4 linked regions of the Homo sapiens genome follow. The protein of the gene in region 1 interacts with the protein of each later gene in a pairwise test. Each region holds a gene or a part of one and is shown in the gene's direction. Other genes may lie near its edges.

The links.
Region 2: the proteins of UTP23 (region 1) and KRTAP10-5 interact in binary tests that used the Homo sapiens proteins (3 or more experiments, as listed by UniProt).
Region 3: the proteins of UTP23 (region 1) and KRT38 interact in binary tests that used the Homo sapiens proteins (3 or more experiments, as listed by UniProt).
Region 4: the proteins of UTP23 (region 1) and TRIM23 interact in binary tests that used the Homo sapiens proteins (3 or more experiments, as listed by UniProt).

Annotation. Positions count from the first base shown.
Region 1 is NC_000008.11:116,768,985-116,776,096, forward strand, and holds the end of UTP23 (rRNA-processing protein UTP23 homolog), read left to right. Parts: intron 1-1,207; coding exon 1,208-1,382; intron 1,383-2,471; coding exon 2,472-2,858; 3' UTR 2,859-5,700; downstream 5,701-7,112. UniProt on the Homo sapiens protein: Involved in rRNA-processing and ribosome biogenesis.
Region 2 is NC_000021.9:44,578,544-44,586,172, reverse strand, and holds KRTAP10-5 (keratin-associated protein 10-5), read left to right. Parts: upstream 1-5,568; 5' UTR 5,569-5,594; coding exon 5,595-6,410; 3' UTR 6,411-6,718; downstream 6,719-7,629. UniProt on the Homo sapiens protein: In the hair cortex, hair keratin intermediate filaments are embedded in an interfilamentous matrix, consisting of hair keratin-associated proteins (KRTAP), which are essential for the formation of a rigid and resistant hair shaft through their extensive disulfide bond cross-linking with abundant cysteine residues of hair keratins.
Region 3 is NC_000017.11:41,437,966-41,446,661, reverse strand, and holds the start of KRT38 (keratin, type I cuticular Ha8), read left to right. Parts: upstream 1-5,678; 5' UTR 5,679-5,740; coding exon 5,741-6,232; intron 6,233-6,418; coding exon 6,419-6,501; intron 6,502-7,302; coding exon 7,303-7,459; intron 7,460-7,803; coding exon 7,804-7,965; intron 7,966-8,045; coding exon 8,046-8,171; intron 8,172-8,348; coding exon 8,349-8,569; intron 8,570-8,696.
Region 4 is NC_000005.10:65,620,852-65,629,402, reverse strand, and holds the start of TRIM23 (E3 ubiquitin-protein ligase TRIM23), read left to right. Parts: upstream 1-5,069; 5' UTR 5,070-5,128; coding exon 5,129-5,209; intron 5,210-8,551. Other genes in the region: TRAPPC13 (trafficking protein particle complex subunit 13), read right to left, coding at 4,297-4,342.

The DNA of each region.
Region 1 (7,112 bases):
TTTCCCCTCCCTTTAAATTTTGCAATTTATGTTTTTAAGAAATCAGGTCATTCGTTTTTCAGTGGAATATATTTCTTGGCCACTAGTAGTTAGGTCTCTACAGAGTTTACTGATATTCAGGTTTGAAGATGTGTGGAGTTAATTGATGAAGTAGAACAGCAGAATGTTATCAGGCCTGGGTTTTATTTTAGAAAAGATAACTGCAGTGATGTGAAGGGTAAATTGGAGAAACAAGAGAGCAAAGGCATGAATCTGTTTTGCGGTTGTTTAATCAAGAAGTAAGGGGAGCCTAAACCTGGGAGAGGAAAGGCAGGAACCCAAGGGTTCTCCAAAGAAACGCTACGTTACTGAGATAGATAGGTTGAGCAGCTGATGGCATAGGAGTATGGGTGAAGAAGGGCAGGAAGGTCAAATGTGATTTCTGATTTCTATCTAGGGTGTCTGGGAAAATAGTAATTTCAAAGAGATAGCAAGTCTTGGAGGATAAATTTGGATACAGGAAAGTGGTTTGATCTTAGACATGGTGAATTTGAAGAGTTGATAGCAGGACATCCACAGGCTGGCAGTACTCAAAATAGAGGTCAAGTCTAATGACTAAAGCAAGCAAAATCTTCTTGAAACAGAAAGATGATAAAGGAGATGAAGCAAGAAAGAATCTGGCAAATGCTGGCTAGGGTTGAGGAACTCTTATGACTAAATGTTTTTTTAAAAACAACTTGATGATGTGAGAAGTTTTACTGTTCTGAATTGAAAATGTTTTGAAAGTATACCAATTTGTACTTGAAGCAGAAGCTTATTACGCTATGGTTGGGACAAGGGAGCTGTTGTCAAACTGCAAGTCTCGGTACCACTTGCTAGTTACTTGAACTTTGGCATGTTACTTGAAATCTCAGAATGGGGTGCTCTAAAATAAGGATAATTTCAAGGTAAGCGACCTAACTTCATAGGGTTACTTTGAGATTAATCAAGAATTTATGTAAAGAGCAATTTGCATACTACATGGAACATAATAAGTGCTCAGTTAATTTTAACTGTTGTTCTTCCTACTTGGTAAATGCATTTTTCAAGTGATCTTTTAAAGTAAATGGTTACCAGATGACAAATTTAGATTGTAACAGCATAGTTTTATTTTAAGAAAAAATCGACTATTGTTTTTTACACCTTATGTAAACAAGTGAAATGTATCTGCTATAATTTTTCTTTTCAGATGTGTGTTAAAAGAGCTAGAAACATTGGGAAAGGACTTATATGGGGCAAAACTGATTGCACAAAAATGCCAAGTTCGAAATTGTCCTCATTTCAAGAATGCAGTGAGTGGATCAGAATGTCTGCTTTCCATGGTTGAAGAGGGAAATCCTCATCATTATTTTGTGGCAACACAGGTGATACTACTTTTAAAACCACAGGCAATTTTCACCATTTCTATTTATACTTCATATGGAGCTATTTATAATCAGAAAAAAGTTAGAATGATTAGACTTTTAAAAATACAGGCTTCTAAGTTAATTTGCAGTCAGTAAAAGCAATTGTCATTTGAGAATTTGAGGAAAACTTTAAGCATGTTGATATTCTTTTTAGTAGTGGAAGGTTGGGTTTTGTTTTTTTTAATGATTCCTTTGTTTTGCTTTTTTTGTTTGTTTCTTGAGACTTGAGGGTCTCACTATATTGCCTAGGCTGGTCTCGAACCCCTAGGCTAAAGTGATCCTTCCACCTCAGCTCCTGAGTACCTGGGATTACAGGTGTTTGCCATCATGCTGGACACTGGCAGAAGTTTCTTTTTTTAAAACAAGAAATTGTTGACATGAGATGTGATGATTTGTTGTAGGGTTCTTGAAGGGAAGATAAGTAGAGCAAAGTGCCTGTATTCTGTTAATTTTTTTCATGTTCCTGTATTTCATACTGTTTCTCAAAGTCATGGTTCATACTGCTTAAGACTGTACCAACAGTATGAAATATTTCAGGCTTTTGAAGAAAAATATTCCCATCTTCTTGAAGGCAGGAGAAGAGAGACTTTTGGGGGTGATATTAAGTTCACATACATACAGATTTGATTATCAGAATTATAAAATTACACAGAGGTAGAGCTGAATTTAGAATCTGAGTAGCTAATTACTACCCAGTTTCTTTTCCTTTAACCTCTTTAAGCATTCTTGACCCTTTCCAAAGAATATCTTAGAGTGGAAACAGGAGAAACCCACCTAACACATTTACCTTTGCATTAGTTTGTAATTTGTGGCTCTAGAGTATCGATAAATCCGGTTCACACAGCTGCTACTAACACTGTGCTCAGTTTTTATGTTTTTCTTCCTTTATCATGAAATATACCCCCATTACTCAAATGAATAAGTGAGGCTTACTCATTTGAAAAATAAAATCTGTGATCTCTTTTATTTTTAATACAGTTCTTGAAAACCTATTTAAGGTACCTTAATTGACATTTGAACTAAATAATTCTGTTTTCTTTTAAATAGGATCAGAATTTGTCTGTGAAAGTAAAAAAGAAGCCTGGAGTTCCTCTCATGTTTATTATTCAGAACACTATGGTTTTGGACAAACCTTCTCCCAAAACAATTGCCTTTGTAAAAGCAGTGGAGTCAGGTCAGCTTGTCTCAGTGCATGAGAAAGAAAGTATCAAACATCTCAAAGAGGAACAGGGTTTAGTGAAAAACACTGAACAGAGTAGAAGAAAAAAGCGCAAGAAAATAAGTGGTCCCAATCCTCTTAGTTGTTTGAAGAAAAAGAAAAAGGCACCGGACACACAATCATCTGCTTCTGAAAAGAAAAGAAAAAGAAAAAGAATTCGGAACAGATCTAACCCAAAAGTACTTTCTGAGAAGCAGAATGCAGAAGGAGAATGAATCCTTTGGATACTTTCAAGGACATTCAAATGTGAAAATGAATTTTTTACAACTAGAAGTATTTATAATAAAAGACCAAACTTATTTTTGTAAATGAACCCATATGCTTTAGCTAAAATTAATTATAAAATAAAAACAGTGACCAGTCTAGCCAGCATGGCAAAACCCCATCTCTACTAAAATACAAAAATTAGCTGGGCATGATGGTGCACAGTTGTAATTCCAGCTACTCAGGAGGCTGAGGCATGAGAATCGCTTGAACCTGGGAGGCAGAGATTGCAGTGAGCCCAGTTCGTGTCACTTCACTCCAGCCTGGGCAACAGAGTGAGAACATGTCTCAAAAAAAAAATAAAAACAGTGAATGGGTGTAGGTGTGATGGAATTCACTTTACTTACTAAATGGTTTCGGGAGGTTGTTTCTCCAGGTAAAATTGTCGCCTCTCTGGTCCCATTCCCACCTTCAAACATTATATGCAAACAGTTTTAAAAAATCTTACAGTTCTAAAAGGCTTGTGACAAAAAAAGAGGCAGTCCCTCTTTCACATTGACAGAAGAAACTTCCTCTTTCAATTCTAGTAGTTGAAGAATTTATATTTCCAAATTGTATGATTATACCGCTACTTTTTGATACATCAATTATTTATTGACTTCCTACTAGAAAGAGTGAAATTTTGCCCATTTATACTGCACCATTTTTCCAGTATATGAATATTTTACTCTTTGTACATCAGAAACTCAGTATTTTCATTATTATGACTAGAGTTTTTTTGTTTGTTTGTTTGAGTTCTACTTGTCCAATAAGGATGATGATTTTCTTTTAGATGTAAATGTTAACTTCAATAGCAAGAATTCAAAAATAATATTCTCTTTGAGATTGACTGTGAATGTTATTGAAAAGTGTCTAAATTAGTCTGAGGATCAATGAGGGTCAATTCAGTTAGGAATTGAATAATGAAACGTGTCTCTCTGAATTCCCCCGGCAATTGTTTTAGTCATTTATCAGGCCAAAATTAAAATGTTTTTGTACTACAAGATGGAAGTATAAAATTATTGGACAAGTGAAATCGTATCAGTAGTTCCTGACTGACAGCTTCTGGAGCCACACTAGAGCAGTGATTCTCAGTCTAACATTAGGTTATCATGATGACGTATGAGTAAATTCTTAATGGTTAAATGTGAGACAGTTCACATTTATTCCCATAGAAATGTCATTCTCATTTGAATTCAGAGATACTTCTTTGCTGGAAGTTGGAATTATAGCTTTACACCAAGGAGTGACACGTAGACTAATCTGGCAAGCCAAGGTAGTGTTTGGATTGCAATGTCATGATTCTATTTTAAATTCTTGATGGTAGAAACATTTTTAATAAGGAAGGTAAAAATACTGGAAAAAAGTGAATAGTGTAGGTTTTGTGAGGAAAGTTAACATTTGTCAATGACAAGCATTAAGGCCACCTAATAAAGTGTAGACAAAGTGATAAATGAAATATACACTGATGATACTCATTTCAATATGCTAAAATACATTAAATTTAGGTATTACTCTTAATCTATTTCTACTTAGTCAGTGCTATCTGATTACCTGTTAATAGCATCTGAACTGGAGAGCTGGAAAAATCCACTTTTTTATGAAGCAGTAATTATAGAAGTACTAAAAATTACAATGTATTAGTAAGTTTAATATTTTGACAGGGCATGGTGGCTCACACCTGTAATCCCAGCACTTTGGGAGGCCGAGGCTGGCAGATCACAAAATTAAGAGATCAAGACCATCCTGGCCAACATGGTGAAACCCTGTCTGTACTAAAAATACAAAAATTAGCTGGGTGTGGTGGTGTGCGCCTGTAGTCCCAGCTACTCGGGAGGCTGAGGCAGGAGAATCGCTTGAACCCAGGAGGCGGAGGTTGCAGTGAGCCAAGATCATGCCACTGCACTCCAGCCTGGTGAGAGAGTGAAACCCCGTCTCAAAAATAAATAAATAAATAAGTTTACTATTTTAAAACTGGTTAATCATTTATGTATTTTGCCAGTAAAATTACTTTAAAAGATATTTTAACAAAAGTCTCATATCCTTGTACTTCAGTTTTTTTGTGTGTGAATACTATCCCTATACCACTACCCCTAAAACCTCAGAATTATTTGCTTTATTTTTTCATACAACTTGGGGAAGGGAACCATGGGAGTATGCACATGGGATCATAATCCATTCTGTGGTTTGGAAAAAGAAAATGTTAACCTCTGCTTTAGAGGGTAGCTACTAGCTTTGTTGGGGATAAAAGTGTAATACATGCACTTTTGAACTCTGAAAGTTTGCCAATCTGAAAAGGGGTGTTTCTGAAGACCACTATCTTTTACGAACACTTAAAAATAAGTGTTTGCAGTTGTGTATGGGCACGATACTGTATTCTTTACATTTTTATGGCCCTACAGCTACTTCTTATCCCTGCAAGTATATAAATTAAAACCAAGTCACTTTAGAACAGCTTTGAAACTAGAGTTTCAAAGGTAAAAGGATCTCATGTTTCTGAATCTGCGTAAAGCAAGATGGCTGTGATTTGACAGGTTTAATTGCTAGTTTTTTATAGGTGGATAGAAATGAATAGTTTGGAGTCTTTAAAATGTTTTAAAAAATGTTTGCTTACTATCTATATATATGACATTATTCCCAATTAGTTTTATATCTCCAAGATATATATATGTATATAGGTATATACACATATGTATATATACATAGTCTATATATTCTATATAAGAATATATTCCAATAAGAATATATTCCATACGGGAATATATTAGTCATTGATGTATTTTGCCGGTAAAATTAAAAGATATTTTAACAAAAGTCTCATCTCCTTGTACTTCAGTTTTTGTTTTTTTTTGTTTTTGTTTTTGTTTTGTGAATACTATCCCCATACCTATATTCCATACAGGAATATAGTCTATATATTCCATATAAGGATATATTCTATATATTCCATTTAATATATTCTATAAAAATATATATTCCATATAAGAATATAGAATGTATAATACACGAATTTGTACTGAGTAGAATGTGTCAATACATATTTGTTGAATGAATGAAAATGAAGGCCAAGTGTGGTGGCTTATGTCTGTAATCCCAACATTTTGGTAGGCCAAGGTAGTAGGATCACTTGAGCACAGGAGTTTGAGACCAGCCTTGGCAACATAGGGAGATCTCATCTCTACAAATAATCGAAAAATTGCCAGGTGTGGTGGCATGTGCCTGTGGTCCTAACTACATGGGAGGGTGAGGTGGGAGGATCACTTGAGCCTGGGAGGTTGACATTGTAGTGAGTCTTGATCATGTCACTGCACTACAGCCTGGGCGACAGAGCAAGACCCTGTCTCAACAAACCAACAAAAAAGTAAATGAAATAACGTCAGGTCTACCAGAAGGGAGAGTCATGACTCATCCAATTTCCAGACTAAAATAGTTCAAGGGCCAGAACTCCTTAATTTAAGGGGACGCTGGGTTCTCTTGAGAAAGAATCCAGTATATAAAAATTACAGTATATACTTGTAGCAGTGCTTCAAGTCCCCTTTCCCAAAGGGACCTGTGGCCACTTTCTAGAGGGACTGTGAATTGGGGAATAGAAATACTCAGACCTTTGGGAATATTTCTGGTTCTGAATTGATGCTAGTTGCTAGGGTCTCAAAATGCTACTGGACCACCATTTAGAGTAGGAGTTTATGGTGGTGAAGTGACAGAAAAATTGAGTTTTAGGTCAAATTTGAGTCCAGTGAGCTCAGTAGGTACTTGAGCCCATCCTGTTTATTCCCAGTTCAGAAAGTACAGTCGTTAAAGACATACTTGGTAACTGGTCATGTCCCCATATTGGCTCTCATTTATGGGCTAAGGGTCGTTAGGATAGGAAGGGTCAAGTAGAAGCTGTTGGAATTTCTCTTTTCTGCTGTATAATAAACCAAAAGATAGGACATCACTGGGGGAATTGCAGAGATTATTAACACTACTATCATCAAATGATAGAATGAGGTAGAAGTGTTTATTCCTATTACATCTCCATTTAATGCATCTATTGGGCCTCTGCAGAAGGTAGATGATCTTAAAACCAATGACTGTGGATTATTTTAATGTTAATCAGGCAAGATTTATTTCCAGCAGTTTTTTCAGATGTAATGTCTTCACTGGAACAATGAATACAGCTCTTCACACCTGATACAAAAATGTGCACCGCCCCCCCCACCCCCACCCCACCTGGCCCCTTCCCC
Region 2 (7,629 bases), on another chromosome or scaffold:
CTTTAACTGAGGGTTGAGTTCTAAAGAAGAACCGCCTGGTGCCCTGAGTCCAGCAGGAGAGCCAGGCAGGCCAGGGGTGGCCCAGGAGGCTCCCAGCCTGGGTCCTAGGATGGAGAGGAAGAGACCACACCCCAGGAAGTTCTGGATGCCAAAATGAACCAAAGCCCCTGTACTCAGCCAGCGGCAGACAAGGCCCCACCCTGAGAGCCCCAGTGTCAGCTCTGTGAGAAGAAGACATGTGTCTACATGCAGAGAACCTTTCAGCAATGAAAGCCAAACAGTTTAGACCCTCACTTAAAAACGTGAACAACAACTAAGGGTCCTCAGACGCATGAGGAAATCACAGCATGACAGAGAAGCAAAGTCTAAACAAACAATAATGCATGAAACAAAGAGGCCGTTACTCCATGAAACAAGAAGAGAGTGCTACCAAAAAGGAGAAGGAGAAGAAAGGAAAACACCTTGGATTCCTGGAGACTGAAATCGTGACACTCCAAACATATGGAATTCAATGGCAGTCCTCATAACAGACCCTGAGGCAGAAGAGCTGACACCATGACCCCCAGTTCAGAAAATGACCGAAACCCAATGCAGAAGGACAAAGAGATGAAGCCAAGAAAAGCCTGAGGTCTAAGGGAGATGAACCCAGGAGACTCAGGGTCTGTGATTCTGGGATCACAGTGGGGAGAGAAGCCAAGAATGAAAGAAAATCATCAAACCCATATGGGAATAAAAGTTCCTTGAACTAAAAGAAGATGGGACCGAGGGGATGAACACAGCTGATGACAGTGACTAGGGAGGGGTCTGGTGAAATGAATGAAGTACAAGGAGAGAATAGTGCCAGGTTCTGGAAAGAGGAAAAGCTTCACAAGAAGATTAAAGTTATGCAAATCTGAGACACACTGGTGGCCCAACCTCTACTAAGGTGGAGGGAAGAAATTCTGCACCTAGACTCTGCTGTGGCAGGTGTCAGCAGGAGGGCTGTTCTTAAACAACAGGGATCCAGAAAGTTTACCACCCATGACGCTTTCTGAAACTTTTACTCAACAATCTCTAACAAGAAGGAGCACGACCCCCTCTTTTCAAATGTCCACAAAAATCCGCAGATGCTCATCAAGGAAAATCTAAAGAAAATAAAAATACAGTCTAATAAAAATAAGCAGACATTAAAGATTGAAAAAGAAACATGCCCACAGATTGAGAGATTTTTGTTTTTATGTAAAAGAAAGTAGCATGGGTATGTTTATCCTAAAATTTGAAAATATAAATGAATGGACTGTGTTCTAAAAAATATAAATTACCAACACTGAATAACAAAATGAAACTTTTAATACAATGATGTCCAGGAAAATATGGAAATGGTATTGAAAGATATTCTTCAGAAGGCAGACTCAGATGTTTTAAAGGTGTATATCATCAGCCTTCAATATAAGACCTTCCTGTGATACTTGAAATATTCCAGAGCTCAGAAGAAGACAGAGATCTTCTGGATTCCTCTAATATAAGACTGGTGAGACCCTGATGCCAAAACCAGGAATAATTGTGTGTGAGAGAGAGAGAGAGGGAGAGAGGACTGTAAATCAATCCCATTTAAAAAGATAAAGCAAGAGATTCTATGTGCCTATGTTAAAGAAAAACTAAGCTGTTACATGCAGCCATTATGGAAGACAGTGTCAAAGCTCCTCAGCAAATTAAAAATAGAACTACCATGTGATGAGCAATCTTGTATATACAAGACAAATTAAAGCCAGATCTCAAAGAGATACCTGCACTGCCATGCTAACTGCAGCACTAGTCACAACAGCCAAGATATGGAAGCAACATAAGTGCCCATCAGCAGATGAGTGGATAAAGAAAATGTGGTGTATACACACGATGGAATACGATTCAGCCATAGAAAGGAGGGAGATCCTGTCATTAGTGGCAACATGGATGAACCTGCACACACTATGCTAGGTGAAGTGACCCAGGCCACAGAAAGACAAATACTGCAGACCTCGCTTATATGTGGAATCTAAAAAAGCCAAGCTCGGCAAAGCAGAGAGTAGAGTGGGGGTTCACAGGGGCGGGGGTGCAGGGAGTTTTCATTTTTTATAACTCTTTAAATATCCTTTCAGCGATTATTAATACAGGTGTGCAAGAACTGTGTGCTTTATCCACTTTGATGTTGATGACAGGATACAGCTTCAGCTGTGCAGGATGAGTCAGTTCTGGAAACCTCATGTGCAGCACGGGGACAGTTGACTGTAACACAGAATGTGACGCAGTAACACTGAAATTTGCTAAGAGAGTCCACCTTAAATGTCTCATCACAAAATAAAGGTAACTGCATGGGTGATGGACATATTAATTAGCTTGACCGTGGTAATCATCACACAATGTGTACATGTATCAAGACATCCTGAATTTATATAATTCTTATTTGTCAATTACATCTCAATAAAGCTGGGGAAAAAGGGATAATGAGCCATTATCAAGTAATGTATATCTTAGATCACTCAAGTTACAAAGGGTATCATTAACTATACTCATAAAATAGAAGTAGAAAAGCCACTGGAACACTCAGTAGATTAATACACACACATTCACACACACACATACATGAACAAACTCACTCCTTCTTTAAAAGCCTGAGGCAAAATTCTTGGTAAACTAGAGTGAAAAAACACTGCATGCACGAGACCAAGGCTTTGCGACAAACCAGCCAACACCGGCTTAGTGCGGAGCTGCAGGAGGTGCTTCTGTTAACTTTGGAAACAAGACCAGAGGGCTGCTGTCATCGCGTCTCCAGAGTTGTGCTGGGCAGCCAGCCACGATGAAAGGGAGTCAAATAAAACAAAAGACTACATTTTGGAAAAGAAGAATCCAAACGTGTGTCACTTGCAGAAGACACGGCCGTGGGCCACCCTGCCCTCCAGACTCACATCCCCTCCCAGCACCTCCCTCCCCCAGCCAGGGCTGTTTAATCCCTGCAGCTCAGCTCACTCAGATCCCCAGAGTGTCTGCTTGATTTAAGAAATGATGTGATCTGGCCGGGTGCAGTGGCTCACATCTGTAATGCCTGCACTTTTGGGAGACTGAAACGGATGGATCACTTGAGGCCATAAGTTCGAGACCAGCCTGGCCAAAATGTCCAAACCCCATCTCTACTAAAAATACAAAAAAAAAAAGAAAGAAAGAAAAATAGCTGGATGTGGTGGTGCACACCTGTAATCCCAGCTACTCGGGAGGCTGAGGGAGGAGAATCGCTTGAACCCGGGAGGTGGGGCCTGCAGCACCACTGCACTCCAGCCTGGGTGACAGAGTGAGACTGTGTGTCAAAAAAGAAAAGAAAGAAAGAAGGAAGAAAAGAAAGAAAGAGAAAGAAAGAGAGAAAGAAAGAAATTGGTGTGATCATTCAATTGTCCGTGGAAACTGCCATGGTGGCCCCCAGTGAAAATTTCCATGATCCAAAAAGACACGTCTCCACTGAGCGCAGGGCGTGGACTTAGATCAGGCACACTGAGACCCTGGAGCTGTTGTGGGCACAGCAATGACTGTGGAAAGACACTTTGGACAGTGATGGGTGGTCCAGACACCAGGAGAAGGGAGCGACAGAGGGCGTGGATCACAAATAGGAATAAAGAGACAAGGAATCACCACACCCATTCGATTAAGGAGGCTGCCAGAGATAGCGATGGGAAAACTAAAGCAAATTATCATACAGGCCCCAGGGCTTGTCCCAGAAGCCATGTCAGCCTTACCACATCCCGCTGGCTCAGGACCACCTGCCTCCCTGCCTGCCACTCAGGAAGCACGCACTCTTCTGGGAGCTGTGTGACAGAACGGAGCCATGTATGGCCGTGAGGGAAAGGAGTGAGAGCTCGCGGTTGTCAGGTTCACTGCCGGCCAGCTGTCCTCTTTCAAGGTTACTTATCTTCTCTCATCATTTCTGCAACTGTCAAAATGGGCTGCAGAGTCACCCCTCACGCGGTGGCTGATGTGGAGACCGCACCTGCGCCGTGCATGTCTGTAGCACACCCGCTGATATGACGTCATCCTAGCCTTCCTGGCTTTCCTGTCATTTCCTGAAAGGAGCATCGAGTCCTTCAGTCCCAGAAAGTGGGTTAAGCACACAGTTCTCGCACAACCTCTACTAATAATCACTGAAAGGATATTCAAAGAGTTATAAAAAATAAAATCAAAATTGTCTAACAAAAAGGGAGGCTCTTTAAAATCCTTTATATATTTGTAGAAAAGAGAAACAGATGGAAACAAATTAGAATGTAAACTGGATCAGGACCCCAATGCCCTGGAATAAAATAGTCTTTTACTCAGAAAATCAAATGAACTGCCACCAATGAGCAGAGCTTAACTGATGTCCAGTGAAACGAGGGGAAAAACGTTTAAATGCTCAACATAACATCATTACAGTGAGCCAAAAATGTATTTCATTCATCGTGAGACAAAATTAAAGTCACAAAAGGAAAGACCTTGAGAGATGAGTTATTTTTAAGAGCGCAAAACACTTCCTGAGTCTCCACATTGAAAGGCTCAATGAATTCTAACCACAGAAAGTAAAATAATGCACACGCATAGAAACAAAAGAAGAATAAAAAGAAAACCAAATGTTCCCAGAGAGTTAAACGGAGAGAGAGAGACAAACTATAAAAAATGACAAATGACCAACCTCAGTCTCTCATCAGCAACGCTGGACACTACAGAAAAATGGTGACACAGGTTCATCATTTTGAGAAAACAGATTTTTTGTTATTATTTATAATAATAATTCTGACTTAAAACCAGAATTATATACCCAGCTAAACTATCATATAAGTGTGAGGGTAAAGTTGAGTACATTTTTAGGCAAGAAAGAAATCTTAAAATGTATGTCCTAAAATCACCATATGTGAAAAAGTACTTGATCTGTCACCATGAGGAAATAAAAATGGAGAAAACCCAGAGCGCAGCTTCAAATAAAACAGAGAGAGGGCTCTGAGGGTGGCATGGAAGAGCTGAAGAGACAAGGATAAAGCACAGATCCACCAGATACCAAATCTCTGAGCATTCCCCTTACGAGGCACAAGGGGTTGAAGAGAGGGCCACTTAGCTTCATCGTACCCTCTGTGCCAGCTGCATTTTATAAGAAATGCATATTTTTCTACCTATTTATATTTTAATATGCTAAAAGTAATAAAATATATCCAATCAGTCCAAACACAGGATAGGTGAAACTAGAATTCCTCCCTTTAGAGAAGTCTTCATCTCTAAAACCTCTACTCAACAAAAGTTTGCTTGAAATATTTTCCACCACATTTCTGGGGCTAAAATAAGAACCGATGAAGAAACACGGCCCTGCAACATACACACAAGTTTAATGAGGGAAAAACAAACAGATAAACCAGCATGAATGACGCATCTCCAGCCACCAGCTCTAAACACCAACAAGGAAGAGAAGCTTGTGGAGCCTCCTGTCGGGACAACACACGCCAGGGAGGGATTTAAAAGCCCCACAGCCCTGAGCACCTCACTCACTCACTCCCTCCTTCACTCACTCACACACTCACTCACTCACACCTCCCCCAGCTCCCAGCTCACGTCTTCCCCACCCCAGCATGGCCGCGTGCACCATGTCCGTCTGCTCCAGCGCTTGCTCTGACTCCTGGCGAGTGGACGACTGCCCAGAGAGCTGCTGTGAGCCCCCCTGCGGCACCGCCCCCTGCCTGACCCTGGTCTGCACCCCAGTGAGCTGTGTGTCCAGCCCCTGCTGCCAGGCGGCCTGTGAGCCCAGCCCCTGCCAATCAGGCTGCACCAGCTCCTGCACGCCCTCGTGCTGCCAGCCGGCTTGCTGCGCCTCCTCCCCCTGCCAGCAGGCCTGCTGCGTGCCCGTCTGCTGCAAGCCTGTGTGCTGCCTGCCCACCTGCTCTAAGGATTCCTCTTCATGCTGCCAGCAGTCTAGCTGCCAGCCAACTTGCTGTGCCTCTTCCTCCTGCCAGCAGTCCTGCTGTGTGCCTGTCTGCTGCAAGCCCGTGTGCTGTGTGCCCACCTGTTCTGAGGATTCCTCTTCATGCTGCCAGCATTCTAGCTGCCAGCCGACTTGCTGCACCTCCTCCCCCTGCCAGCAGTCCTGCTACGTGCCTGTCTGTTGCAAGCCTGTCTGCTGCAAACCCATCTGCTGTGTGCCCGTCTGCTCTGGGGCTTCCACTTCATGCTGCCAGCAGTCTAGCTGTCAGCCGGCTTGCTGCACCACCTCCTGCTGCAGACCCTCCTCCTCCGTGTCCCTCCTCTGCCGCCCCATATGCAGGCCCGCCTGCTGCCTGCCCATCTCCTCCTGCTGTGCCCCTGCCTCCTCCTACCAGGCCAGCTGCTGCCGCCCGGCCTCCTGCGTGTCCCTCCTCTGCCGCCCCGCGTGCTCCCCCCTGGCCTGCTGAGGCCTCTGCTCAGGCCAGGAGTCCAGTTGCTGATGTGCACATCCCCCAGGGCCAACTGGTCCTGACTCGGGTTAGGAGGTTGCCCCCGCTTGGGACGGGGCCCCCATGTGCTGAGGTGACCCCCCCCTCCATACTCCCAGGAATCTCCATCCTCGAAGCTCCCCAGCTCCTGCCTCCCAGCAGGGGCCCACCTGCCTGTTGGGTCCCCTGTCCTCCCTCCCAGCTTCTCTGCCCCATGTCACTTGGCCTCGACTTGAACCTGTCAGCACCTCCTCCTGCTCCCCAATAAACTCCCCTTGGTCGCCTGATTCTCTTTTTCTGTAGTGCTCCTGGGGATACATGGTTTTGAGCTCAGATTGGTCTCTAGCCATGACTGTTTCTATGAATGAGTGACTTAACCTAGAAGTCACGGGGGACAGTGGCCTAACTCCTCCAGGGGGTCACCAGGTGGAACTCACAGCCACGCCCAGGAAGGCTCAGTCCCGGCTCAGCCTCCATGCCTGGGTCTTCCTGAGCCTGGTCATTGGCTGCCGTGCCCTGGGCTGTGGGGCTCTCCAGGCCCCAGGACTGTCCCACCCACTGTCCCACCTGGGAGAGCCCACCCTGCAGGGTCACCTTCCAGGAAGCTGGCCTGGGGTCCGGGCACCGCAGCCTCCAGGCCTGGTCACCCTCCCTGTGTGCCGCCCGCCCGAGAGTTCTGCCCGCTTAGCAGCAATGCGGGGGGAGAGGGAGGGGCTGCTGCACCTGCGCAGGAGACAAGGGACTCGATCAGGACGAAAGCATCATGGAGTGGGTGGATGGATGCACATGATTCCCCAAAACTGGCACTGCCCCAGGCCCTCCTCTGGGGGCACCAGGTTCCGCATGGGCTTTCAGGACCCAGAGTCCGCACCTGCAGGACCGTGCGTCAGGCCCCTCTTAGGTGAGGTTGACATGGGCGACACTGGAGGGCACAGGTGGACAAGGCCCTGCTGAGACCTGGGGGATTTTCTGGGGGGATGGCCTTCCAGGGGCTGCGGTGGTGGCTGGAACTGTTTTAGTAAGTAGGCAACTGTCCCCAGTGGGTAAATTTTCAGTTACCCTCCCTGCAAGGCCATCTCAGGGTCAAGGCGTGGGTGTTCCTCCATGAGTCCCCCTCTCATCCCAGGAGTCTGTGTCCATGGCCAGAGCCCACCAAGGGCATCCCTGCCACCCGTGAGGCCTCAGCCTCCGTCCCCTA
Region 3 (8,696 bases), on another chromosome or scaffold:
CTGGGCTCCACCTCCAGGGATTCTGTGGCCATCGGTCTGGGTGTGGCTTGGGCATCAGAAGTTCTAAAAACTCCCCAGGGGATTTTTTTCTTTTTTTGAGACAGGGTCTGGCTCTGTCACCCAGGCTTGAGTGCAGTGGTTCTATCTTGGGTCACTGCAACCTCTACCTCCTCAGTTTAAGCCATTCTTCTGTCTTAGCCTCCTGAGTAACTGGTATTATAGGCATGCACCACCATGCTTGGCTAATTTTTTTGTATTTTTAGTAGAGATAGGGCTTTGCCATGTTGGCCAGGCTGGTCTCGAACTGCTGACCTCAGTTGATCCACCCGCCTTAGACTCTCAAAATGCTGGGATTATGGGCATGAGCTGCCAAGCCTGGCCTTTTTTTTTTTTTTTTTTTTTTTTTGTAAATAACAGAATAGACAGTGCACCCTGAGAGAGGATCAGGGTGTGCTCCTTGTAAGGATGAGATGGCCCCCTGGGGGATTCTGGTGTATAGTCAAAATTAGAAGTTGTTCTCAACTGGTTTCCAAAGGGATGTGAGGTGAGGGGAAGCATGTTTGTCCCAGACGTTTCTAATCACTGTGTTTGGGACTATTCCCTTCTCTTAGAGCGATGGTTATCAAGTTTGAGCATTCCTTAGAATCACCTGGATGGCTTGTTAAAACACAGATTATGGCCGGGCATGGTGGCTCACACCTGTAATTCCAGCACTTGGGGAAGTTGAAGCGGGCAGACCACTTGAGCTCAGGCATTCGCGACCAGCCTGGGCAACATGGCAAAACCCTGTCTTTACAAAAAATACAAAAATTAGCTGGGTGTGGTGGCATGTGCCTGTAATCCCCTCTACTGGGGAGGCTGAGGTGGGAAGATTGCTTAAGCCTGGGAGGTCGAGGCTACAGTGAGCTGAGATTGTGCCACTGCACTCCAGCCCGGGTGATAGAGTGAGACCCTGTTTCAAAAAAACAAAAACAAAACACACACACAAACAAACAAGGAAAAACACAGATTGCTGCCCCCTCCCCTGCACCCAGTGTATCTGCATTCAGTAGGTCTGGAGTGGGCATCTGAGAATGTGGATTTCTAACAAGTTCCTGCGAGATGCTGATGCTACTGGCTAAGAAACCAAACTCTGAGAACCACTGCCCTACAGGCTGACACGACCAGCTTAGGAAAATGTCCAGAGAGTAATTTTTCTCAACACAACATAAAAACCAACATAAATCTATACAGTTTTCTTTATCAAATGTCATCTCCTCTGTGCTGGCTTATCCCTGCCTAATGCTTGCTAAGTGCCTCACTTGGGCTTGTACCTTTCCTTTGTCAGTGTCACTATCTGAGAAAGACTTGAAGGTGACTTGAGAGAAGCATCCTGCATCAGCAGAGAAGGGTTGTTCCCAGTGATGTGCAATCAAACTAGCTGGTTCTGCCCTTTCCAGAGGCTGCCTGAGTTCGCAGCTGGGACCGTGGGGCCCTGGGGGGAACCACAGCATCTCAGTGACTGGTGAGAAGATGAAGCAGTTGTGGGTGGCACCATGGCCATAATGCCTTCCTCTTCTCTAGGGGCAGGTCTCTTGCCTGTGTCATCAAATGTGATCTACCTTTGGTTTCTCTGTAGGATTTATAAAAAAAATTACTATGTAAGAAATGTACTGTCAGGATTTTGGTTTTAGAAAGTGGGATCAAGTGGTACGCTGGAGCTAACTCTTATAACTCACAAGAGCCGATTTTTCACATCTCTTTCCAACTCCACATTCAGTGACATCATATTGTTTGCTTGAAGTTGGCTATTGTGGGAGTATTTACACCACAGAAATTGGCTTACACTACAAACTGGAGGGGTTTTCCCCCCAGAGAGCTAATTTGCCGGCATATCTCTGGTTGTGTATTTATCCACATTGCTTAAGAATCTATGATTTTACTTCATTGTTTCAGCATACAAATATCTTTGCTTGGTGCTACTGTGTTTCTCATTACCTGCTTACATAATTAAACACACATGGATGCAGAACCTACTCTGTAGCCGGGCTCTGTGCCAGAGTCTGGGGATATGGAGATGAAAGAGGAAAAAGCAATGAGACAAACTCCCTGATGTCCTGGAGATCCCAAGTCCATGGTGGGGAGCTACCACCTCTGATACAGCCACAGTTTCCCAGGGTGAGAAGAGTGTGTCAGCAGAGGGAGAGCAGCCTACCTGGGAAGCCAGAGAAGGCTTTGCAGAGAGCATGAGTGAGCCCACACAGCTCAATCTATCTGTGACAGAGAACGGCCACTGAGCTGTTTCAGACTCAGCATGTTTCATAATCATGGGTTTGTAATGAGCAACAGAAAGCAGTTCAATATTTTCCACAATGAGGATCTTTGACCTGTGCCAAAGATCTGTTTTTATTCTGGTTGAAACAGAATTCTATATTTTCTTCCCTTCTTAGGGTCTTGCTTCTCAAAGATTTTCCAACTCTTTCTAATTCATCTTCTGGAGTCTCTTCCCTCACTATTGCTTGCCAGGGCAGGGTGAGCCTCCTGAGCTACTCTCCAAGTGGGTCGATTGCAGTGAAGCCTGGAGCAGCAAATGATGCCATCAGAGGCAGGTGTGAGGCTCACAGGTCCCAACGCACGGGCCCCGGTTTCTGTGCCTATGTGCAGAGGTGGAAGCTCGTGACTGTCATCCACAGGAGAGGATAGGACTTGTTTCCCACACTCATGCCAACACTGTGTGCTATTATCCAACTTAGCAAAACCTGATAAGAAAACAATATCTCTTTAGTTTGTATTTCTTAATCACAAATGAGCATACATTCATATATAGATAAAATCATATTTAATTTGAACAGAAGTGTACCTTTTCCATTCATCAAAGCCTCAGGAGTTGGATACCTAGAATAATACATTTATATGCTCAGCCTCTTCTCTCAAGAGTCTTCATGGTTTCTTGATCTAGGATTGTTTGGGACACCATTTTCTAACACCCTGGAGATGTGGCAGCACTAACTCTACATATAGTACTTGTCATAAATCTTTGCATTCACTGCAATGTGTGATGGGTGACGTTCCCACACAGGGCACAACTCCCTAGATGCCTCCCTGCATCTTCCAGCAGTAGGAGCCATGACACAGAAAAGATAAACTTTGAGTTAGGCACAATCTCCAGGTGCTAGCCTACAGCTCCATACCTTTCTCTCCCATTGGTTGAGATATGCCCCTATGTATCAAAATTAGTGAAAATGGCATTCCAAGACCACAGCTCCTCACCTCCATTTGCAGTAGACTTCATGCCTCTAGAGATCGGCATGTCTAAAGTCAGAATCCACACAGAGAATGTTGTGCACACAGGTGAATGAAGGAGGGCAGCAGGCTCCCATCTCTCACACTCTGTATTCATCACTTCTTGTTACTGAACCTGGCCTCATATTCGGTCACCAGGGGCCACAGGGACTCTTTTTAAAGGGTTGGGAAGGAAGAGAGTCTTAGGATCCCCACCCGCTCCTTCACCTCCTTTGAGAAAATACAAATCAGGGGAACAAAGCGATTTTACAAAGAGCCATGCAACATCAGTATCATTATGCAAAACAGTACAAGGTAGAAGCCCAAGCCAGGACCCAAGCCAGTTGGCAGAGAGGGGTGTCATCTGGACACACAAGGCTTCAGCAGTGATGAGTCATGTATTGTGAATGGACGAAATCGTGGCTTTTAGTCCATGGAATGAATCTGGGCAGAGGATAAAGCCAAAAGATGGGTGCTACTTAGCAAATCAAAGGAAATGACTTTAAAAGCCTGGCTCTCTGATTTATAGAGAAGCTTGTTGCTATGTGATGAGGCGGAGGAGAGTAACAAAAGGGTGTTTGAAGATGTAACATATGCAGATTGCACCCAGTGGCCTCTGGAGGATGGGACAGCCTGCCCTGGTGATGTCTCCCAATGATGTTGTCTGTAAAGGGTTATGGATTGGTGAGCTCTGAATAACCCTTAGGTCAGCGCTCACTACTACTTACTTTCCTGAGAAGCCCAATCTGGACTGAATTCTCAGATTCTGTATTTCTTCTTGATAGAACTCCAATAGCCTGTGTTTCACATATGCACGTCTGATCCCTATAGAGGTGTATGTTCAGCTTTTGTTCAATGCTCAGGGGACTGGCAAAAACTCATTTTCCCAAAATTCTAGTTATAATCACTTTGGATTGTTCCACATTAGGTTTTTCTTAGTCTCAGGGGTCTATGTATCTTCTGTCACAAATTTTGGGAGAAAAGTTTTGGGATCTCAGCAGCCATGTGTCTTGGATCCCTAGTACCAAGAACTATCTGAATGTGGAATGTGTAATATAACCATTTTAGGGACAGGACTTTCCCCTGGCATCTTCTGATTTAGCCCTTGGAGAAACTCTGTTTTATTGTATGAATACCTCCACATCTGTATTTTCTGAGATACAAAGGGAAAAATACACAATGTCAGATTTTTGTTTTACATCTTAATTTCAACTTCTTGCCCGGTTTCTAGGAATTTGAATCCTTCTTAGTTCTAGCAATGACACAGTAGTTATCCTTGGGGTGGAGGATTTGGAGGTGGTCAAGGTGAAGAAACAGTTTCTGGAGTTGAAAGAAGCTGATGTTGAGAATAGGCTTTATACTTTATAGTGAGGTTGATCTTAGAAAACTGTCCTCAATGGCTTGTTTATTTATTTTGTAAAATTAAGAGTACCCACCTCCCAGGTTGGAAGTAAAGATTAAAAGGTATCATTGCTCAATCCCCTAGCTCATAGGGTGAAGGCTCATGACTGACTTTAGAATAAAGGAAGCAAGGTATGAAGAGAGCCCACAGAGGCTCTGATCACTCAATGTCCTTTGACTTTCATGACCAAGTTCTTATTTGAGGTTCAGTAAGATTATTGCTCATTTCTCTTTGTTTATTTCTGGCTTCTTGAGCTTGCCCTTCTTGGTCGAGATAAGCCATGGTTTTTGGAGTCATCCTCATTTTCATGAGCTTCTCAGATACCTTGTTTGAAACATCACGTCTACCCAAGTTACAGTTGTTCCCCAATGGCAGGAACTATTTTGTGCTTAACCAACTATATATCAAGCATCAGCAAGGTGCGTAGCATATGGGACGTAGCCAGGGGATGTGTTTTGAGTGACTGGATTCATCTAAGTCTTGTTGCTCCTCAAAGTGAGTCTGAAAGGCAACCAACTAAAGAAAGAAGAAATGTAGGACTTCTTGATAACCCAAGGCCATAACATCCACCAATTCCAAGACTCAGTTTCTTCCCTGGATAGGGAAGGCTGGTTGAGTCTTAACCCAAGTGAGAACCATTGTCATCACCGGGGTTAGTCCTCCTGCTACACCACTGACCAACAGGAAAGTTTGTGTCTCCAGAGTGGACACATCCATAAAGAGGCCAAACCCAGTCAAGGTCTAAGCATCTGATGGCTATAACTTTGCTTCTTTGAAAGATAATAAAAAGCTTCTGACCTCCCATCAACAGCCAACCTGATTTCAAAGAGCCAAGAGGCCTCAGATTCGTCAACATTCCTTTAACGAGCTGAGAAACTTTTCATGGTAAACTCAGCAGCTGAGTAACAGGATGATGGCACCACAACAGGTAGATAATCAAGGCAGGAGGTCAAAGCATTGGAGCCAACACCCGCCCAGGATGGGGTATAAAAGGGCTGGGAGGAGAGGAGGCTTCAGTCTCAGTGGTTCAGCTTTCCCAGCTGATCTGAAGCTCCTGTGCAGCCTCAGCCCAACACCATGACCTCTTCCTACAGCAGCTCCTCATGCCCTCTGGGTTGCACCATGGCTCCTGGAGCAAGAAATGTCTCTGTCTCTCCCATCGACATTGGGTGCCAGCCTGGGGCAGAGGCCAACATTGCCCCCATGTGCCTTTTGGCCAACGTGGCACATGCCAACCGAGTCCGTGTGGGGTCCACTCCCCTGGGCCGCCCCAGCCTCTGTCTGCCGCCTACCTGCCACACTGCTTGTCCCTTGCCAGGGACCTGCCACATTCCTGGCAACATTGGAATCTGTGGGGCCTATGGTGAAAACACCCTGAATGGCCATGAGAAGGAGACCATGCAGTTCCTGAATGACCGCCTGGCCAACTACCTGGAGAAGGTGCGCCAGCTGGAGCAGGAGAATGCGGAGCTGGAGGCCACACTCCTCGAGAGGAGCAAGTGCCACGAGTCCACCGTGTGCCCCGACTACCAGTCTTACTTCCACACCATCGAGGAGCTCCAACAGAAGGTGAGGTGTGGGATCGCTTGGGTGTGCTGGGTCTGAGATGGCAGAGGCAAGACAGGAGGAATCCATGTAAAGCTCAGAGAACTTTGGGTTCTTGGTTTCTCTTGGACATGATCATAGACACCACACGTGGAGAAGGAGCCTAGGGCATGATGCTTTGTGTGTGAACTGTCTTCCTGTTCTCCTCAGATCCTGTGCAGCAAGGCCGAGAATGCCAGGCTGATTGTACAAATTGACAATGCCAAGCTGGCTGCCGATGACTTTAGGATCAAGTAAGTCAGGCGGAGGAGGGCCAGGGTGACTCCTTCCCCACCCTCCATCCCAATGCCCAAATACTTGTTGAGTGAGGGAATCATTGTCATTTCTTCCTTGCTAGATTCTCTACAGTAAAATTTTCATTACAATCGAAGCTGATGGAAGATGGAAGGGAAAACTCCTCATTAATCCAAGCATATATGTTTGTCTTCCTTCATTTATTTCCCTAAAATGGAGGATAAGGCAGCCTGAGTTCATTAACCAGGAGCAAAATGAGGTGATTTGAAGGATGAACTGAGCAAGACAGCCATTGGGTTTCATATATAAGTCAGAGGAGTCACTTACAGATGAGTCTTTGTCCAGATTTAATTAGGGAGCCCTAAGGTACCAGGTATAAGGTACCTAGGCAAAAATGAGAGAGGGGAAGACAGCTGAAAGCAAGGGATAAGGAGCCGCAGATCACGATCAGGCACCTGGTTATTGCTTATCTTTGGTAACTGACAGCCCCTGCAATGGCATGAGCGTTGGACTGGGTCCCAAGATGCATGATCTTACGCAAGTCAGTTGATCTTCCTGAACTGCAGTTGCCACAGAATACAATGGCAAAAATGTATATTGTGCAATGTAGTGTTGTGATTTCTCCATTAGACCATGAGCTCTTTGAGAAGAGGGGCTGGGTCTAATTCACCTTTGAGGACAGAGGGCTAAACAGAGTGAATAAATGAGGATCCAAGGTGGTGTGGGAGGTAGGAAGCCAGGGCAGCCGAGAGGGGCTCTTGGGGGCATTCTTTTTGACCCTGTACCTCCTGTGATGAAAGGCTGGAGAGTGAGCGCTCCCTGCGCCAGCTGGTGGAGGCAGACAAGTGTGGGACACAGAAGCTCCTGGATGATGCGACCCTGGCCAAGGCCGACCTGGAGGCCCAGCAGGAGTCCCTGAAGGAGGAGCAGCTCTCCCTCAAGAGCAACCACGAGCAGGTGTGGCCCTGGGCGCTCAAACTCCTGGGGAGGGCACTGGGCAGACAGGGGAGCTCCCCAGCCCCGGGCTCTCAGAGCATTGCCTGGCCTCAGCTGGCATCAGGATGCAGGGCTGAGGTGGGTCTGAGGGTCCAGAGGGCCTCTGTGGAAAGTGCAGACTTGCCTTGGGCATGAGGAAGGTGTGCAGGTGGGCTCTCCCGAATGCCCTCTGGGCAAGACTTTCCCATTTGCTTGTGTGTGGGACTCCCCTCCTACTGCTTGCCAGGGGCGGGGTCCTGGTGCTGTCTGCTCCATCAAAGGCCCTTTCCTCATGCAGGCTGTCTGTCCCTTCCTCCCTTCTGCAGGAAGTAAAGATTCTGAGGAGTCAGCTGGGGGAGAAGCTCCGGATTGAGCTGGACATTGAGCCCACCATTGACCTGAACAGGGTGCTGGGGGAGATGCGGGCTCAGTATGAGGCCATGTTGGAGACCAACCGCCAGGATGTGGAACAGTGGTTCCAAGCCCAGGTGAGTGGGGGGGGTATAGAACCAGGGGGTACCTGGCCTCCATCTGGGCAGGGAGGTGACCGTGTCTCTCTGTGCTCCAGTCTGAAGGCATCAGCCTGCAGGACATGTCCTGCTCCGAGGAGCTGCAGTGCTGCCAGTCGGAGATCCTGGAGCTGAGATGCACGGTGAATGCCCTGGAGGTGGAGCGCCAAGCCCAGCACACCTTGGTACGTGTCCTTCACTCTCACTGCACTGCAAATGCCCCGTGCCATGGCCTAGTAGCATTTTATTTTGGAGGTCTCACTACCCAAGTTTCTCCCACCTGTTATCACCATCAAAATTTGAGGCATGTAGCAGTTTCCCTTGGGGCCTTGTATATTTTATCCCCTTATTTCCCACTACAGAAGGACTGTCTGCAGAACTCCCTGTGTGAAGCCGAGGACCGCTTCGGCACGGAGCTGGCCCAGATGCAGAGCCTCATCAGCAACGTGGAGGAGCAGCTGTCTGAGATCCGGGCCGACCTGGAGCGGCAAAACCAGGAGTACCAGGTGCTGCTGGACGTGAAGACCCGGCTGGAGAATGAGATTGCCACGTACCGGAACCTTCTGGAAAGCGAGGACTGCAAGTACGTGTGATCTGGGCAATTCCTGGCCAAATTATTTACTCAATTCTGATGAGGTCCTCAGGGCAGCAGAAGGGCTGTCTCTATGTAGAATGAGGCTCTCTGTGCACTCCTTTTCAGTGAGTCGTTG
Region 4 (8,551 bases), on another chromosome or scaffold:
GAAAAGGAAAAACAAAAAACAAAAACCAATCCCAATGTGGTATTTTACCAAAGTGCTATTGGTAAATGTGAATGTAATCTACAAACCTGAAAATTCTTTCTCTTACCAAAATAAGGGATCTGAACTAGATGCCCTATAAAATCACTTCCTGCCTAAAAACGCTAGTAGTCAACATGTTTAACTCAATAGATATAAAGGACTTGGAAGTATCGATATTAATATATTAAGTAATAATAGTCTTAAAACTTTAGCAGAAACAAAGAGTAAATGAATGATTCTTAAAATATTGTTTTCATATGAATTAACAAAAAATGTAATATTTAAAAATTTGAGGCAACTAAATTGAGGACAATGAAATCACTGTAAATTCTAATCCAACATGGTGAAAACCCATCTCTACTCAAAATACAAAAAAAAATTAGCTGGGTGTGGTGGCGCATGCCTGTAGTCCCAGCTACTAGGGAAGCTGAGGCAGGAGAATAGCTTGAACCTGGGAGCCAGAGGTTGCAGTGAGCCAAGATCATGCCACTCAGCCTGGGCGATAGAGCAAGACTTCATCTCATTAAAAAAAAAAAAAATTCTAATCTGTCTGGAAGAAAATTAATCATTTTATACTTAAAATTATGTAGATTTGCCAGGTGCGGTGGCTCATGCCTGTAATCCCAGAACTTTATGGGGGCCAAGGCGGGCAGATCACGAGGTCAGGAGCTTGAGACCAGCCTGGCCAACATGGTGAAACTCCGGCTCTACTAAAGATACAAAAAATAGCCGGCTGTGGTGGCGTGTGCCTGTAATCCCAGCTACTCAGGAGGCTGAGGGAGGAGAATCGCTTGAACCCGGGAGGTTGAGGTTTGCAGTGAACTGAGATCGCGCCATCGTACTCCCATTGCACTCCAGCCTGGGTGACAGGGCAAGACTCCGTCTCAAAAAAAAAAAAAAAATTATATGGATTCCACCAAACAAATATATAGATAGAATATTTGATGATTTCACGTCATTCTCTGTAGTAAAAACTAAAACCATTAATATGGTTTAACTTTGCTAATATGGTTTAACCAGGCTAAGAACCAGTTTTGTGACACTGTCTTCTCCTCATAATCCAGGCAATTAAACAGTATGGAGACCCCAATACCATGGCTTTTGAATTCCAGTTTGGAAGAGAACAAGAAGTCTAGACTCCTATTTTTTTCTCTTAGAGCACAGAAGTCCTCAAGTTGCCCCAAATTAAGTCACTGATAATAAATTCCAGCATATGGTGCATAGGCTCAAGAATGGAGCCTTCCAATATCTGCAAGTTAGGCTTGCTAATCAGGCCCAAAGCTGTAAGAGCCATAAAACAGACTTTTTCACATCCTAACAACAGCAGAAAAAAATAAGTTGAATCCCTTCTCCCCAAAAATCATTAGAGAATTACTTGATGAGGGTTCTCCCACTGCTAGGATAACCATGAGTATGGATTCTTGTCATCATTTCACAATAGAATCACTGTCTGATTCTGAAGAGTTAGAAGAAATAATTTCATTATTTTTACCTACTGATACTGCCCACTAACAGATCTGACAACTCTCAAATTCATAAATAATTGTGATCTTTAACATCCATATTTTAAATATGGATCTAAATGTTATCATATATACTTTCAAGAACTAATGATGCACTAATGTTTTTCTTCCCTGTTCCTTATACTTTCACATTGTAAAATATGGCACTGAGAAATTCTCTTGTTGTCTAAAGTCAATCAGTGTTATACTCAAGGGATGACTTTTTTTTTTTTTTTGAGACAGAGTCTTTGTTGCCCAGGTTAGAGTGCAGTGGCACAATCTCGGCTTACAGCAACCTTCGCCTCCCAGGGTCAAGTGATTCTTGTGCCTCAGCCTCCTGAGTAGCTGGGACCACTGGTGCACACCATCACGCCTGGCTAATTTTTGTATTTTCAGTAGAGACGGGGTTTCATAATGTTGGCTAGGCTGGTCTCGAACTCCTGATCTCAAGTGATCAGCCACCTCACCCAACCAAGAATAACAAGATATTATCTTTAACATTTTACATATTAAAAGATAAAGTGAACTTAAATGACCACTTAAATTAATACATTTGGCATTCAGCATCAGCACATTGAAATGTGTGAAAATTGTTGATTAACTAGAACAATGGGTTAACTATAAGATGGTACTAAAGAGGTTTAATAAAGTTGAAACTATCAGTCAATTTTGAAGCACTTGTCCGTTTAGGCTGCTTATTGTTCTTTTTTTTTTTTTTTTTTTTTTTTTTGAGACAGGGTCTCACTCTGTCACCCAGGCTGGAGTGCAGTGGCGCAATCTCAGCTCACTGCAGCCTCTGCCTCCCAGGTTCAAGCGGTTCTCCTGCCTCAGTCTCCCGAGTAGCTGGGATTACACCACCACACCTGGCTAATTTTTGTATTTTTGGTATAGACGGGTTTTCGCCATGTTGGCCAGGCTGGTGTCAACTCCTGATCTCAAGTGATCTGCCAGCCTCGGCCTCCCAAAGTGCTATTACAGGCGTGAGCCACCACGCCTGGCTTAGGCTGCTTAAATATTCTTTCTTAGGTATCCTTGGTTTTGGAAAAAAAAGAATAACAGAAAACTAAAAATTCCCAGTGGCAGTCTCTGTATCACTGGAATTTAACTTTTTGTTTGTTTGTTTTTTGAGATGGAGTCTCGCTCTGTTGCCTAGGATGGCGTGCAGTGGCGTGATCTCGGATCACTGCAAGCTCCGCCTCCCGGGTTCACGCCATTCTCCTGCCTCAGCCTCCTGAGTAACTGGGACTACAGGCGCCCGCCACCACGCCTGGCTAACTTTTTGTATTTTTATAGAGACGGGGTTTCACTATGTTAGCCAGGATGGTCTTGATCTCTTGACCTTGTGATCACCCGCCTTGGCCTCCCAAACTGCTGGGATTACAGGGGTGAGCCACCACGCGCGGCTGCAATTTAACTGTTTTTAATAGCTTCTAATTTGTATAAATCACACGTAGCAGTTAATAGAACTGTTCCAAATTCCCATCGGAGTAGCTGGTAGAGGAATTATCTCTGAGAATGCTGCTTCATTCTTTAGGAGGCAACACGGACTCTTGGAAAGAGAGGCAGGCCTTGCGTTGAAACACTGCCTCAATCACTAGCTATGTGATCTTGGAAAAGTTACTTAAACTCTGAGAATTAATATTTACTCCACATACTTGAAGTGAGATTGTGAGATAAAGAACACGACAATTAGTTGCTTTTCTTCTTTTCCCTCTTCTCCACGAGTAACAATCCATTTTAATCTCCATTTTAGTCTAGATCATTTGCTCAGGTTAAGCTTACAGGTCCCATCACTGTATCACTAAACATTACAAAGTTCCACAGTAAGAGACAATCTCGCTAACACAGGCATCATTATATGAGACTGATGAGCTTCTAGAAAGTCTGATGACTACATCATAATGGGAAGGATAAGGCGTTCCTCAAAATGGATGCCATAAGTAAAGTAAGCGCAATTCAATTGAACCCGAATGTTTATTGAGCATTTCCTCAGCTCATTCAAGAAGTCATTGTTAACCATATATTAAGGCATCCAAGAAACAAAAAGCGCATTTGTTGTAGTAAAAAACAAATAAAATAAAGCTGAAAAGATTTCAAATAAAAGGTTTCCAGAAAATAGGCATTAAAAAAATTGTCCTAAAAAAAAAAGTGCTGCTGTTTTTTCCTAAATAATGATCTAATTAAATCACCAAACTTACTCAAAATGGCTGTGTACAAAAAATGAGAGTTGACATTAGATCTCGGACATATTTCCCACATACACAGTGATTTGAAGTAAACTGCAGTTTGTTTTGAATAAATCTAAGTTATATGTTGTATTACTATGTATTGCTAAATTCTCTGCACTACTGTCATGCAATACTAATTTTACAGGGGAAGCTGAAGCCTGATTAACTTCGTCAGTGCCACAGGAAGAAACAAGAGACAGAAGGAAAAAGCACTTTGGATGCCCGCTGTAATTCACAGAGATCTCCACGGTAGGAGCGGGACGTCAGCTTCTGCGGCTAAAATCTCGTGACTGAAGCAGCACAGATCAGAAAGAACGATTTACCAGGTATCTATTTCGTTCTAGAAAGGGGCCCATAAACCTAAAAAGCATCCAGGAGAAATCGCTTCCTCCCGCTTGGCGGCAAAGGACAGAGCAGGAGGGCGAGCACTGAGTGTTTAAGAAGGATGAGGCCTACATGGCAAAGGCTTCGATAAGTAGGGAATGCAAGGAAACAGAAAAGGGGGAATCAGGTTCGCAAAAGTTTACCTTTTAGCGCCAGCAGGTGCTCCTGTTTAGGGGGATTCACTTCCATTTTGACCGGCACTTTTGACCCACAGCCTACGGGGGCTGGACAGGTTCAACTTGCCCCGGAAGGAAACGGAAAACCTCGCGTTTGGCAAAACCAAAAGTCAAACGCACTCTCAACCTCTCTCTGGTGGTGGTACCTTAAATTCTCCTACTGTGTCCTTTACAAACTGGCTTCTTTTCAACAAGTCCATTTCTTCTATCTTAGAAACGTAGGCATAAAATACTTTGTTTTCCATCTGCAATCACACATCGCGACTGCAGGAAAAGAAACCACCCCTAGGTAACAATACGCGGCCTCCCAAAGGCCAACGTTGCCGGAGTTTTTTTTTTAAAAAAAAAAAAAAAAAAAAAAAAGAGAGAGAGAGAGAGTGGCATGCTGGGATTTGTAGTTTATACAAAAACCGCGTTGCATGCAGGGAGATGCCCGTACCCCCTCACCGCCCTCAGTTCACGCCCTGGCTGGTTTGGATTCGAGAGGAAAAATCATTAAAGGATCTGGAGTTTTCACCCCAAAACTTTAATCGTTTTGTCCCTTCTTTTTTTTTCTTGTCTTTCCTCCAGCAGCTGCAGACTACATAATGAAAAATAACAAAAGTGCCCATGCGCGAGGCTGTGCAACTAACCACCCGACGATTGCGGGGAGGAGGAGTAAGAGTCGGCTAAGCGGCGCCCAGTGTCCTACTGCGCCTGTGCGCCGGTGGCGTGCGCAGAGGCCTCTGGGTAGGTGGCTCAACCCCGCCTCTCAGTTGAGGACTCTGAAGGCTGTTTCTGTGGCGCTTCCCCTGCGAGGATGGCTACCCTGGTTGTAAACAAGCTCGGAGCGGGAGTAGACAGTGGCCGGCAGGGCAGCCGGGGGACAGCTGTAGTGAAGGTGAGGGACCTTGCGTGCTCTATTCTCCACCATCGGCCTCCCTTCGGTTCATCCTGGAGACCTGGCGGCATCGCCGCGGCCCAGGCTTCGATAGGTGGGATGCGCGGCCTCTGGGCCCCTTTTGGCATTACAAGTCTCGTCCTGTCCTCTGCATCCTTTCTCTCCTATGGCCTGAAATTGCCTGGTCTTCTGCTCATGACATGTCATCATCGGGACATTTGTGAAAAGGAGCTTGCGGGCCAGTGGCAGTGACCTAGACCGGTCTTTTCTCCAGGTCCTCTGCTTTTAGTTAAACTCAACAGACATTAATTAGCTTAGTATTATAAATTGAGTCATCATCATCGTAACTACGTACTAAGTTAGGTGTTTTAGCTCGTTAATATCTACTTATGAAGTAGATGTGAATTCCCATTTTACAGGGAGGAAACCCAGGTTTAGGTAAACAGTGTGTGGCAGAGCCCCGGGTTGACCGGCTTTAAAGTCTGTACTTTTCGCTCTTGTACTGCGTCTGTAATCAGACATCTGTTATTGGGTGAGCTGCCCCCTCCCCTGTTAGTAGTACAGTCTATTAACTCTTTGCACAAGTCTGCAGCATCGTCATAGCTGGGCATTAACGATAGAGTTTATGAATTTTCTTATGCTTGAAGTTTGAGATTCTACCATGTATACATGCTCCAGAATCAATTTGCTAAAAAATCATTTGAAATATGTGGCACTCATTTTTCCCTTCCACTGTTGTGCACGGAAAGATATGGAGGGGAGAACTGATCCCATTGGTTTATAGAGTAACCTTCAGGAGCATCTCTAATCTAAGAGATTGATAATTCTCATTCCTGGCTACATATTAGGATCACTGAGGAGTTTTAGTACACTACTGATGCACTCCTCCTCCAGTTCTGATGAGGTTGACATCAGTATATTTTAGGAATTACCAGAAGTTATTTTAATGTGCAACCAGGGTTATGAATTACTGATCAAGGTAATATATGAAGTTTTTTTCACATCTTGAAAAGTAGACACCTATGATTATTCAGGTAATGTTGGTTTTATATGACAGCAAATGAGACATTTCTTCCCACAATTTAGTATCAGTGAATATTGGTGGTTGTTGATTCAGATGACCTTTAGGTACTAATGAAGTTATTCTACAGGTACACGGCATATCTGATATGCAAAGGAGCCCTCATTATTAGGCATGTTGTGTGACTGAGATTTTATTTATTGAATTGTGCTTTTGCTAAGTAGAGAATACTTGAAGAGCAGTTTGTGAATTAACTTGAAGTTTAAGTTTTATTTCATAATTGGAATGGGTATCATTGCAGTATCTATTTTTTTGTTACCCTGTTTGCCTTACAGTCTCAAAAGTGTACCAAAGCCTGATGTAACTCCAGTTTCTTACAGCACAGAATTTGATACATTGGAGGCTCACCTTGTTCATTTTCATCTTAACATGTAAAATATTCCTGAACTGTGCAATGAAATAGTCCTTTCTGACAAAATCTTCATGCCATAATTTGTAGTAGGTATAGTAGCATAAACTAAAAAAATCTCACTGTCATTTCTATAGATGAAAGCAAGAAGTATTTATTGGAAGGTAAAAGTTGAAGTATATAATGCTAATACTGTGTAAAATGGCCTTTTGCTTGTGAACAAGTTGATAATGACATGGCTTTTATCATTAGAGAAAACAGTAACATAAAAATCTGATATTGTGGCTAGGCGCGGTGGCACACGCCTGTAAAGCACAAAGTGCCTGGGAAGCACTTTGGGAGGCCAAAGTGGGCGGATCACTTGAGGTCAGGAGTTTGAGACTAGCCTGGCCAACATGGCGAAACCCCGTCTCTACTAATAATACAAAACGTAGCCAGGCATTGTGGTGTGGGCCTGTTAATCCCAGTTACTCAGGAGGCTGAGGTAGGAGAATCACTTGAACCCAGGAGGCGGAGGTTGCAGTGAGCTGAGTTTGTGCCACTGCATTCCAGCCTGGGTGACAGAGTGAGACTCCATCTGAAAAATAAAAGATAAAAAATCTGATATTGTGAAATAACTGACATTTAAAAATGTATCACAGAAAGTTTCACACCTTTAATCTCAGCACTTTGGGAGGCTGAGGTGGGAGGATTGCTTGAGCCCCAGAGTTTGAGACCAGCCTGGGCAACATGGTGAGATCCTATCTCTACAAATAATAATAAAAAAAAATTAGCCAGGCGTAGTGGCACATGCCTGTGGTACCAGCTACTTGGGAGTCTGAGGCAGGAGGATTGTCTGAGCTTGGGAGGTCAAGGCTGCAGTGAACCATGCTCAGGCCACTACTCTCCAGCCTGGCTGACAGAGTGAGACCCTTTCTCAAAAAAAAAATAATAATAATAATAAATAACAACATAAAATAAAATATCTGATTGATTACAGTTTGATTTACAAGTAATAAGTTTGAAGCTTTTTTGGCATTTTTTGAAGTGTAAAATTAAGAGCTTTTTCCTATCTAGGGTTTTTTGCTGTTAACCACAATTCCTATTTATAGATACTGAGGAAATATTTTCTTGCTGTATTATTTACCGAGTTGATGCAAAATAGTCTAGTAACTTTATTTTTGGACCTGTGTTTGGTTTGCTAATCAATGGAATTTTATTAGTGCTTTTTGAAAAATACATTAACAGCATAAGGAAGTTCTTTTAAATCTTTGTATAGTGATGGGATCAGAGATACAGGATTGAAATGAACTAAACAATTTTAATATGGTTCTTTGGAGTTTATTGTCATAAATTTACTTTATTAGAGTATCATAATACAGCATTTATAAAATGTTGCATTTATTTTATATCAAATTCTATTGTGAATTTTTGAGACAGAGCCTCACTCTGTCGCCCAGGCTGGAGGGCAGTGGCACAATCTTGGCTCACTGCAAGCTCCGCCTCTTAGGTTCATACCATTCTCCTGCCTCAGCCTCCCGAGTAGCTGGGACTACAGGTGCCCGCCACCGCGCCTGGCTAATTTTTTGTATTTTTGGTAGAGATGGGATTTCACCACGTTAGCCAGGATGGTCTCAATCTCCTGACCTCGTGATCTGCCCGCCTTGGCCTCCCAAAGTGCTGAGATTACAGGCGTGAGCCACCGCACCCAGCCTATGAATATTTTTTCTATATTTAATTGAATTTTTTTTTTTTGAGGCAGGTTCTCACTCTGTCACCCAGGTGGGAGTGCAATGGCACGATCATGGCTCATAGCAACCTCGACCTCCTGGGCTCAAATGATCCTCCCACCTCAGTTTTTGATTTTTTTTTGTAGAGACAGGGTCTCGCTGTGTTGCCCAGGCTGGTCTTGAACTCCTGGCCTCAAGCAGTC